2 linked regions of the Homo sapiens genome follow. The protein of the gene in region 2 interacts with the protein of the main gene of each other region in a biochemical or structural test. Each region holds a gene or a part of one and is shown on either strand. Other genes may lie near its edges. The genes, in order: PRMT7 and CTCFL.

Evidence for each region.
Region 1: the proteins of CTCFL (region 2) and PRMT7 form a complex in vitro, tested with the Homo sapiens proteins (one study listed by BioGRID).

The regions. Positions count from the first base shown.
Region 1 is NC_000016.10:68,355,887-68,359,242, forward strand, and holds the end of PRMT7 (protein arginine N-methyltransferase 7), read left to right. Parts: intron 1-143; exon of another isoform or gene 144-254; coding exon of another isoform or gene 255-324; exon of another isoform or gene 325-329; intron 330-814; coding exon 815-911; intron 912-1,167; coding exon 1,168-1,338; 3' UTR 1,339-1,884; coding exon of another isoform or gene 1,885-1,888; 3' UTR 1,889-1,907; coding exon of another isoform or gene 1,908-1,992; 3' UTR 1,993-2,698; downstream 2,699-3,356. UniProt on the Homo sapiens protein: Arginine methyltransferase that can both catalyze the formation of omega-N monomethylarginine (MMA) and symmetrical dimethylarginine (sDMA), with a preference for the formation of MMA.
Region 2 is NC_000020.11:57,500,946-57,508,235, forward strand, and holds part of CTCFL (transcriptional repressor CTCFL), read right to left. Parts: intron 6,932-7,290; coding exon of another isoform or gene 6,920-6,931; exon of another isoform or gene 6,899-6,919; coding exon of another isoform or gene 6,851-6,898; exon of another isoform or gene 6,848-6,850; coding exon of another isoform or gene 6,638-6,847; exon of another isoform or gene 6,061-6,637; intron 2,657-6,060; coding exon 2,491-2,656; intron 1-2,490. UniProt on the Homo sapiens protein: Testis-specific DNA binding protein responsible for insulator function, nuclear architecture and transcriptional control, which probably acts by recruiting epigenetic chromatin modifiers.

The sequences.
Region 1 (3,356 bases), on a different chromosome or scaffold from region 2:
GGTGCAGAGAGGGCTGGGGGGCAGGGAGGGGCTGCTGCTTGCCCTTGGAGTTCTCACCCCCGTGGTGAGCACAGCTGGCCTGGGAGACGCTGACACGTGGAGGGGGTATTCGTCCTCCCCACAACCTTGCCCTTCCCTGTCAGAGTGGCCCTGCGCGTGTGGTGGTTCCCACGGTCCTGTGTGTGCCACTGGTGGAGGAGCCAGGAAGGGCTCTGCTCCCCCTCTACAGCTGAGGCTCCCTTGTTGGATCACAGCTCAGGAAGATGGGAGCTTACTTCCTGTGGTCACCGATGCACCATTTTCCTGAACCCTCCTGGGAGCTGAAGCAGGTCAGGGTCAGCAAGTGCTGCTTGCGTCCAGGGACGGGCAGCCCTGTCCTGCTCCGGCCCTCACCCCACCCTCGCCCGAGGAGTGACTTCTCCTGGAAGCACCTCCCAACTCGGGGCAGGCAGCCAGGCAGGGCGGGCGCCATCACCTGAGCTCCCAGGGTTGCTGTCTGGGGCATCAGAGGGGCCTTCCGGCCTTCAGTGCCAGGCTGTGCCTCAAGCTCCCCCAGACCCTGCAGCCACACCGGCCCTGCCCCATGTGTGGCCCGGCTGCAGGGCTCGGGTTGGCTCAGGTGGGGGCTTGGCTGCGGCTCTTCTGGCTGGGGTTTTTCTGAGGAACGTTTATGTAACTGCAGCACTAGGAACTCCCGGCAGGGCAGGAAGGAAGTGGGGAAGACCACAGGTTTCTGGAAAGCCGCAGGAGCTGCAGCTGTTCCCCCGCTGCCTCTTGTGTGACTACTTCTGCTGGGCCCCCCTCTCCTTGACAGGCCCGGGCAGAGCCACGCAGCGGTGCTATGGATGGAGTACCACCTGACCCCGGAGTGCACGCTCAGCACTGGCCTCCTGGAGCCTGCAGACCCCGAGGTAGTGCCTGCGCACCGGGCCCAGTGTGCGTGCAGACCCTGAGAGCAGGCGCCGCCTGGGGAGGCCTCCCTGCCCCCATGCTCTGGGTGTTTCTGTCACAAGTTCTTCGGGCCAGATGATGACCCCTCAGTGGTCCTGGGCCATCTGGCCCCTGAGCAGCTTCTCTCTGCTGCGAGCTGCCTGGGCTGGAGGCTGGCTAGGAAGGAGGCTCAGGTGCCAGGGAGCCCTCACCATCTTCCTGCTCTTCTTCCTACAGGGGGGCTGCTGCTGGAACCCCCACTGCAAGCAGGCCGTCTACTTCTTCAGCCCTGCCCCAGATCCCAGAGCACTGCTGGGTGGCCCACGGACTGTCAGCTATGCAGTGGAGTTTCACCCCGACACAGGCGACATCATCATGGAGTTCAGGCATGCAGATACCCCAGACTGACCACTCTTGAGCAATAAAGTGGCCTGAGGGCTGGGGTTCTGAGTGGCTCATGGCTTTCTAGCGGGGAAGGCTGAAGGCCCTCCTCTCCTCTCTGGGAGCTGCTCGGCCTCAGGGATGGGAAAGACTGCGCCGTGTTGCATCTTGTTGCATCTTTGCACTGCTGGCCTCTGGCTCCAGCTGTGGCAGGAAGCATGAGAGGGTGACTGAATTTGGAGCCCTGGAGGGGCTGGGAAGACCCCCCTGCTTGTGCTTCTGAGGTGCTGAGAATGCTCCAACACAGAGACATCTCTCCCCAGCTGGGAAGGGAGTGGAAGCACAGGGAGCTTGTGGGGCTGGCCGGTGGGGTTGTCCACGCCGCCCTTGGCGAGCAGTCCCCGTGGCGGGAGCCTGTCCTGTCTGTCTCACTCTCGAGGATCTCCGGGTCCCTGCTCTTCTGGCTTCTGCTAGGAGGGTGGAGATGCTGAGTTGTGGCTGGGTCTCTGGGGCTTGAAGACCCTGGCTGGGCCCGGGCTGAGAGGCCTGGGTTCTGGCCCTTTCACCTGACAGGTAACTTCAAGCCACATCCATAGGTGTCTGGCCTCAGTGCTGCACCAGCTGGTGGCCTGCCAGGACCTGAGACTGGACACAAGGCAGCTGTCCCAGAGCAGTTCCTGAGATGCAGGCCCAGGAAAGTGGCTGTCAGGGGAGCTGGGAGGCAGCCCTGTTCCCTGCACCTCCCTCAGATTGGAAAGCCCCTCCTGCAGGTGGGGTATGGCAGGGAGCAGCCCCTGCCCAGCGCCGCTTCACCAGGAAGGTCAGTAGGTGCCGTGGCCTTGCTTCTCTCACACACTAACCCCCCTTTGGTTATGTCCCAGCTCTCAGAGGTAACAGCAGACACCACGTGAGAGAACCCAGTGGCCTCTGGCTCGCAGCTTAGAAGGTGAGGCTTGTGCCAGGCCAGCCGAGCCGCCTGTATGAGCAGAGTTCCGGTGTCCTCGGATTCAGGGCAGACTTGGGCAGTGCCTGTCCTGCAGTTGGGGGCAGGAACTCCCTCCCCTGCCCCCAGGCGTGCCCCTGAGGCCTGGCCCCAGCTTGTCGCTGAAATAAGTGGAGAACACCAGCCTTGAGCCTCACAGTTTTATTTTCTCCTCGTTATCCATCCTTCCTTTCAGCACCAGTAAGGAAAAAGAACACCTCTCTTCGCAAAATATTTTATCAGGTGTAAAGACTTGTTTTTCTTCTAGGGAAGAACCGTCTGGATATATATTTGATAATGTTTTTACCAAAACCATAGGTGTGCTTACCATAGAAAACCCCTAATGTCCCATGAAGATACAATACAGAAAAAAATACAGAAATTAAAAAAGTTTTTATAACAGTATTTCTAAATCTCAGCAAGTTAAAAAGCAATAGTTAAAAAGCATCAAGATTAATATACTTAAAACTTAAGGTGGTTTTGGACAAATGAAAATGAACATTTCCTTCCTCAGTGGCCCCCGCGCCTTGTGGCTTCCTTTGAGACTGGGCCTAGGGCAGGAACAGAGTCTTGGTATGGGCCTCGGGTGACCCGTGTGCCCACCCCTGCTAGGCCTTAGATGCCACAGAATCTGAGATCCAGCAATGGTTCACTTTAAAAAATCAGTGGAAGGGCCTGGCCTGCACACAAGGCCCGGGAGTCCATAGGCAGCCACAATGAGACACGTGGGTGGGGGGGTCCCGGTCTTGGTGCTGAGGGAGGTGTGCGGGGGCCTGGGGGCCGCACATCCTTACTCTGGACCCCAGGACCTGACTAGGCAGAGGCGACCTTGTGATGACAGAAAATGACTTGCCTAAGGCCGCCTGTGAGGTGGGAGGGGAGGAGCATGCAGCCCTGACTCCCACGCCTGCTGCCCCGGGAGGGGGTGCCTGGGTGGGGAAGCTATGTTGGGGTCTGGTGTGGGGGCCCTGCCCGGGCCTCAACTGCTCTCCCTGTGCAGGCAGTCGGCAGGCGGCTCGGGGTCTAGGGGTCCAGGGCCGGCCGGCCCAGTCGCTTGTGTGAG
Region 2 (7,290 bases):
GAAGTCACGTTTCTCCAGGGACCCTTTAGGATCTGACTTAAACTCAGAGCCGAGGTGGCCAGTAGCCCGGCCTTGGGTTTCTACAATGTGCGCTGATGAACTGTGGGTCAAATTTCACCGGTCTGTCTTCTCCAGTAAAGGACTGTGCTTACTATTCACTCGTTTATTCAACAAGTGGTGACTTAACGAGCAATGCTGAGGCCAGGCCTAGTGCCAGGAGCTGGGGACGGACCCGATGGGCCAGGCCCGCCTTGGAGGAGCCTGCGGTGCCCTGCATGTGGGAATCCGGCACTTATTAAAGAACCAAATAAGCGTGAAGTGTGCAGGAGGGGCAGCGCAGGACCAGGTGGGTGGTCGCGCGAAGTGCTTTTATTTTTCTGAAGATACGGAGCATGTTTAAGGCTGATAGGAAAGAGCAGGCCTGCAGGGGTGAGTTGGCTGAGGAGGGTGGGTGGGGGACATAAAGCTGCTCATCTGGGGGGTGGGTTCCAGACTCAGAGTCAGAAGGGGCCTTAGATGGGAGGGGTGGCTCCTCCAGCCCCTTCCTCCATTAAAAAATGTGAAAAATGATATTTTACAACATCATTGGTATAAAGGAATCCAAATGGAATGCAGGCTGCATTCATTGCTTGATACCCATCAGTGAGACACTGGTTTTTCTTCTGATCTGCCCCTATGAGCACTGTGGACAGCCCTGTGCCCTGCGGGGCCGGATGGAGAAGCCCCAGGAGCTGGCGGAGGATGGCGGGAACTCCAGCTGGGAGTGGGATGACACAGGAATGCCGGGGCAGCGGGCAGCAGAGCCCATCTGCTGGTGCAGAGTCAGTGAGGCCTCCACCCAGAGGGAGGGAGGCAGGGGCTGGGAGTTTGGGATGAAGGTGCTCACTGGAAATCAGTGGAAAAGTTATTGGTGCTGAGGTTCAGAATGAGGGCTCTGGGCACCTGGGCAGGCTCGTCCCCACCCTGTGATGGAGCTCTCTCCCTGTCAGATGGATGACAGTGCCCCCTGCAGAGGCCTGTGGTCATGATAAGAAGGGACTTGCATGAGCTCAGTGGTAATTGCCGATGCCTGGAGGAGAAAGGAGGGTGCTCCGCGCATGGGCAGTGTGCACAATTCTGGAGAGTTCCAACTGAGCTGAGTGATGGGGCACTGCCTGGGACCCCTCAGTCTCACCAGTTCCCTGCCAGGCAGGGCCTGGCTGTGTGACGCAGGCATGGGAAAGGCAGGCCGGGGGCACACCCAGGCTTAGGGCTTTGCCAGATGGTGAGACGCAGAGAAAGAGTGGGGGAGTGCTGCCTGTGGACAGAGCGACTGGAACCAGGGACCCAGAACCGACTCCACACAGAGGGAGTGGGAAGGACTGCAGGATGCCCGCTTCTACCCGAGTTTCAGATACATGATGAACATTTTTTTTAGTATAAGTATATCCCAAATAGTGCATGGGACACATTTAAACAATGATTCACTGTGTATCTGAAATTCAGATTGAGCTGGGCATCCTCTATCTGATCTGGTAACTCTTGAGGAAAGGCAGGTGGAGGGCGACCGTCATCTGTGGGAACATTCGCAATGCAGGGACTGAGTCTGGAATGAGAACGTGGGGTATTTGCTTGTGCCGTAAAAGTCTGGACAGTTTCCAGTCATCTACGGTTCTAAGGTTCTCAGAGGAAAGGAATGGAGAAGGTGAACAGTGCAGGTGTTCACCTGTGCAGGTGTCAGGTTGGCCCCTCTTACAGCAGAGCCATTCACAGGACACACAGGACAGGGCCCAGCTTCAGCCAACCTGGGAACTCACTTCAGCTCCCAGAGGCCAGAGGACGAAGACTGTGATGGCTGTGGGGGCTGAATGGTGACCCCTAAAGGGATATGTCCATATCCTAAGCCCCATAGCTGACCTCCTTTTTTCAAAAGAAGTTCTAAATCCTAAATGATAAATGTCTTTGTAAGAGGCAGAAGAGAAGGCCCACACACAGAAGAGAGGAGAGAGCTAGGAAAAGACAGAGGCAGAGACTGGAGGATGTGGCCACAAACTGAGGAATGGTGGAGCCACCAGAGTTGCAAGAGGCTAGGAGGGACCCTCCCCTAGGTCCCCCGAGGGAGGGCGGCCCTGCCCACACCTGGATTGAGGATTTCTGGCCTCTAGAGCTATTTGAAAATCAATTTCTGTTGTCCCAAGCCACTCAGCTTGTGGTCATCTATTGCAACAGCCCAGGACAGTCCCTGTAGCTGCAGGCGACAGTCCAATGCGATGGAAGAGGGCTCCTCGGGGTGGGGGCCACACATGGACCTGCGTGGGGCTCTCACACTGACTTTCTCACGCTATGCTCACTGCCATTCTGAGAGATCTGGCACAAGCCACCTTGCAGGACCGACTGGTGGACAAATAGGGGCTCTGGACACATCCCCTGGACAGTAACACTCGGCACCCAGGATAGTCACAACCAGAAAATCACTGAGGCGGTAAAAACAAATCTGCGTAAAATCAGTACCGTCTCCGTTCGCGGCTTCCTTCCATCCCTTCGCAGCTTCCTTCTGACCCTTTGTGGCTTCCTTCAGGATGGTCTGCTTCCTCTTTCTTGTTCTTCTTCCCTTTCCTGAAGCAGCCGACTTTGCTTCCCCTGATCCACACTTCTCCGAATGTCTGTGCAGGTTAATCTGTCGGAGAATTGACACAGAACACACAAGGCGAGTGAGATGGGGCAGGGACCCCTCTCAGGGGCCTGTGGGGACCCCACGCATGGAAAGAAAGAAAAATCCTGAGTTCTTTCGAGGGCAATTCCACACACCTCGCTAGCCCTAAGAAGTAAATAAGCAACTTGATAAGCAAGAAGGTAATAGGAGGCCAGGCACTGTGACTCACGTATGTAATCCCAGTACTTTAGGAGGCCCAGGAGGGAGGCTGAGGTGGGAGGATCGCTTTAGCCCCGGAGGTCGAGGCTGCAGTGAGCTGACTGTACCACTGCACTCCAGCCTGAGTGACAGAAAAAAAAAAAAAAGAAAGAAAAGAAAAGGTGATAGAAACCTAAAACAATAGCCAAGGAAGCTACACTCAGGATGTTTGGGGCACTCGCCCAGGCTGGAGTGCAGTGGCGCCATCTCGGCTCACTGCAAGCTCCGCCTCCTGGGTTCACGTCATTCTCCTGCCTCAGCCTCCCAAGTAGCTGGGACTACAGGCACCCGTCACCACGCCCGGCTGATTTTTTATATTTTTAGTAGAGACGGGGTTTCACCGTGTTAGCCAGGATGGTCTCGATCTCCTGATATTGTGATCTGCCCACCTTGGCCTCCCAGAGTGCTGGGATTACAGGCATGAGCCACTGCACCCGCCCCCCGTCTCCTTTTTTTTTTTTGAGATGGGAGTCTCGCTCTGTCACCCAGGCTGGAGTGCAGTGGCATGGTGTCAGCTCACTGCAACCTCTACTTCCCAGGTTCAAGCGATTCTCCTGCCTTAGCCTCCCAAGTAGGTGGGACTACAGGCGAGTGCCACCACACCCAGCTAATTTTTGTTATTTTTAGTAGAGACAGTGTTCCACCATGCTGGCCAGGCTGGACTCAAAACTCCTGACCTCAAGTGATCCACCTGCCTTGGCCTCCCAAAGTGCTGAGATTACAGGCGTGAGCCACCGCACTGGCCAAGATAACATCCTAACATCCGTCCCTGAGTTGTTTTTTAGAAACCTGGCTCTTTACCAAACAGGTCCACCGGCAGGGAGACCTAAGATAAGGAGGACCTGGGGGCTGAAATCTGACCACTGCTAAATTTGTTCTAATTTTGTTCTTAATTTCCTCCTGAGAGGCCTAGAGGAGGTCATGCCTCGTGAACCAGAGCTAATACTCTTTTCTCAAAATTTTAAACAAAACTTCTCTTCCTTAACCAATTGCAAACCAGTCTCTGAATCTACCTACAACCTGTAAGCCCTTGCTGCAAGATATCCTGCCCTTTTAGGGCAAGGTATCCTCCATGCGCTGATTTATAATTTTGTCTGTAGCTTCTGCTTCCTTGGCACCCTGCAAATAAACTCCTGCTGCAAACTGTGGTGTGGATATCTGGTCTTACTGCACCAGGCAAGCAGACCCCAGTTTGGTTCTATAACAAGAGTCGGCTTCCCCAAAGGCACTGAAAAATGCACAGTTAAAGAGATGGCCTTTGGGAAAACTGTGGGTAGCATGCACCTTTGATAATCTTGTGCAAAAATGATGACTTTTTAAAGGTGACCCTTTCTGTTGTGCTTAGCTCTAGCCAAAAGCTAGCTTGCTTTAAGTATTTTTTTTTAATAATAGAAATCAATGAGAAGACAAAATTTATTTATTTATTTATTTATTTTTTGAGACGGAGTCTTGCTCTTTCGTCTAGGCTGGAGTGCAGTGGCACGATCTCTGCTCACTGCAAGCTCCGCCTCCCGGGTTCATGCCATTCTCCTGCCTCAGCCTCCCGAGTAGCTGGGACTACAGGCATGTGCCACCACGCCCGGCTAATTTTTTGTATTTTTCAGTAGAGATGGGGTTTCACCATGTTAGCCAGGATGGTCTCGATCTCCTGACCTCGTGATCCGCCCGCCTCGGCCTCCCAAAATGCTGGGATTACAGGCGTGAGCCACCGCGCCCGGCCTTAAAATTTATTTTTCTAGAATGTTTCTACTCTCTAAAGTGAAGACTGATGTTGAACCAAAAATTCAATACATCAGTCAATTTCATAACCATCAACTACATACCATAAAGATTTTACTTTTCTGTTAGCTACTCTCTTGAAGCTACTGAGCAGAGGTCATGGGTGGCAGTTATGAAACTGTATACAACATTCAGGAATAAAAGCCAAAGACTTCCCCTAGTCAAGCCTACTCGTGACATAGTCTCATCTAACAAACACTCAGGATAATCTTAAGTCAGAAAATTTTCACTTTTTGAAAAGGTCCTAGGCAAAAGTAAAAAAACTGGCAACAGGTGTTGAAATTTGCAAATTATGCGAAACATCCCGCCTGATTCCCATTTTGACTTTCCCACTGTGCTTAACAGGACTGTCTGCGTTTATGATGGAAGAAGGAAGAATTTACACATAATGGGGGTGATGGAACAGGTTGTTTAAACTTCTTCCATTTTATGCTTAGACACTGGGGTTGGCAAACGACAACCAGTGGGTCAAATCTGGCTGCCAACTGTTTGTGAAAGCAAGTTTTACTGGAACACAGCCATGTCTATTCATTTACACACTGCATCCACAGCTGCTTCCATGACACAAGGGCAGACTCAAGAAGTCGTGGCAGAAACTGATTTGCGTTGCCCTGGTGATTAATGACGCTACGCTTACTGGCCACCTGTATGTCTTCTTTGGAGAAAGGTCTATTTAGATACTTTAACTGTTTTGTTTTGTTTTTTTCCTGAGACAGTCTCGCTCTGTTGCCCAGGCTGGACTGTAGTGGCACAGTCTCAGCTCACTGCAACCTCCACCTCCTGGGTTCAAGCAATTCTCCTGCCTCAGCCTCCTGAGCAGCTAGGATTACAGGCATGTGCCACCATGCCCAGCTAATTTTTGTATTTGTAGTAGAGATGGGGTTTCATCATTTTGGCCAGGCTGGTCTTGAACTGCTGACCTTGTGATCCACCTGCCTCTGCCTCCCAAAGTGCTGGGATTACAGGTGTGAACCACCGCGCCTGGCCTAGATACTTTACCTGTTTTTCATTGGGTATCTGTCTATTTACTGAGTTATAAGAGTTCTTTTTATATTTTAGACACAAGTCCAAATATGCTTTCTTGAATCGGAATTTCAAAAATTTTATGTTCTGAGGGACTGCATGAGGCAGACTTGTTCTTTTCTCTACATTTTTATTTCTTGCACCAAAGAGCAGTTTTTTTCTCTTTAGAATTCTACTCGTTAATTTTAACTCTTCACAATTTTTGCATGAGCAATGGTGTTTTGGGAGCACTGCCACAGCTTTTATTTGAAATTTTAAACTAATAGGGTTGACATTCCAGAACTATCCCACTGTGCTACTCAGAAAAACACAACTACACTACTGTTTTAAGAAGAAATATTTTTAAAAAAATAGTCAACTTCAGGAAATTCAACTTTTATAAAACTTTTATAAAGTTAGGCTGAAGCCTACATGGTCCAAGGATCTAGCTAGCCATGTGCAGTGGTTTTTAAATGTCCTGAAATTCTTTGATGCTGTTCCTTTCAAAAGAAACTTCATTCCCCACTCGAGTGTGGGTGGGACTTCATGGTTCATTTCTTGTGACTAGAATGTGCCACTTTTTTTTTTTTTTTGAGACAGAGTCTTGCTCTGTCGCCCAGGCTGGAGGCCAGTGGCACAATCTCAGCTCACTGCAACCTCTGTCTCCTGGGTTCAAGTGATCCTCCCGTCCCAACCACCCAAGTAGCTGGGATTACAAGCGTGCACTACCACGCCTAGCTATTTTCTTTTTTTTTTTTTAAAGTAGAGACAGGGTTTCACCATGTTGGCCAGGCTGGTCTTGAGCTCCTGGCCTCAAGTTATCCACCTGCCTTGGCCTCCCGAAGTACTGGGATTACAGGTGTGAGCCCCCACAGCTGGCTGTTGTGCCGCTTTTAGGACTAGACTGCAAAAGGCACCATGGCTTCCTACTTGCACTCTCTCACTTGCTCTGAGTCAGGAGGACACTCAAGCAGCCCTGCAGAGAGGTCCCTGTAGCAAGGAACTGAGGCCGGTGCCAGCAGTTGTGTGGCGGAGCTGTCCTGGAAGTGGATCCTCTGGCCCCAGTCCAGCCTTCGGATGATGCAGCCCTGGCGGACATCCTGACTGCAGCCTCAGGAGTGGCCCTGAGCCAGGACCACCCAGTTCAGCCACTTCCGAGTTCCCAACCCAGAGAATCTGTCAGGTGATAAATGTTTGTGGTTTTAAGCCACTCCATTTTGAGGTAATCTGTCATACAGAAATAGATAACTAATACAACACCTAAAAGAATAAAACCATAAATGTATTGCTTAGTCCAGTACCAACAGCACTATTCTTTTTTTTTTAATTAAAAAAGTTATTTTAGAGACAGGGTCTCACTCTGTCTTTGAGGCCAGAGTGCAGTGGTGCGATCGTGACTCACTGTAGCCTCCAACTCCTGGGCTCAAGTGGTCCTCCTGTCTCAGCCTCCTGAGCAGCTAGGCCTACAGGGGTGCACCACCACAACCAGCTAATTTTTTTGGAGGGATGGGGGTCTCCCTGTGTTGCCCAGGCTGATCTCAAACTCCTGGCCTCAAGTAATCCTCCCACCTTGGCCTCTCAAGTAGCTGGGATTATAGACACCAATAACATTATTCTAG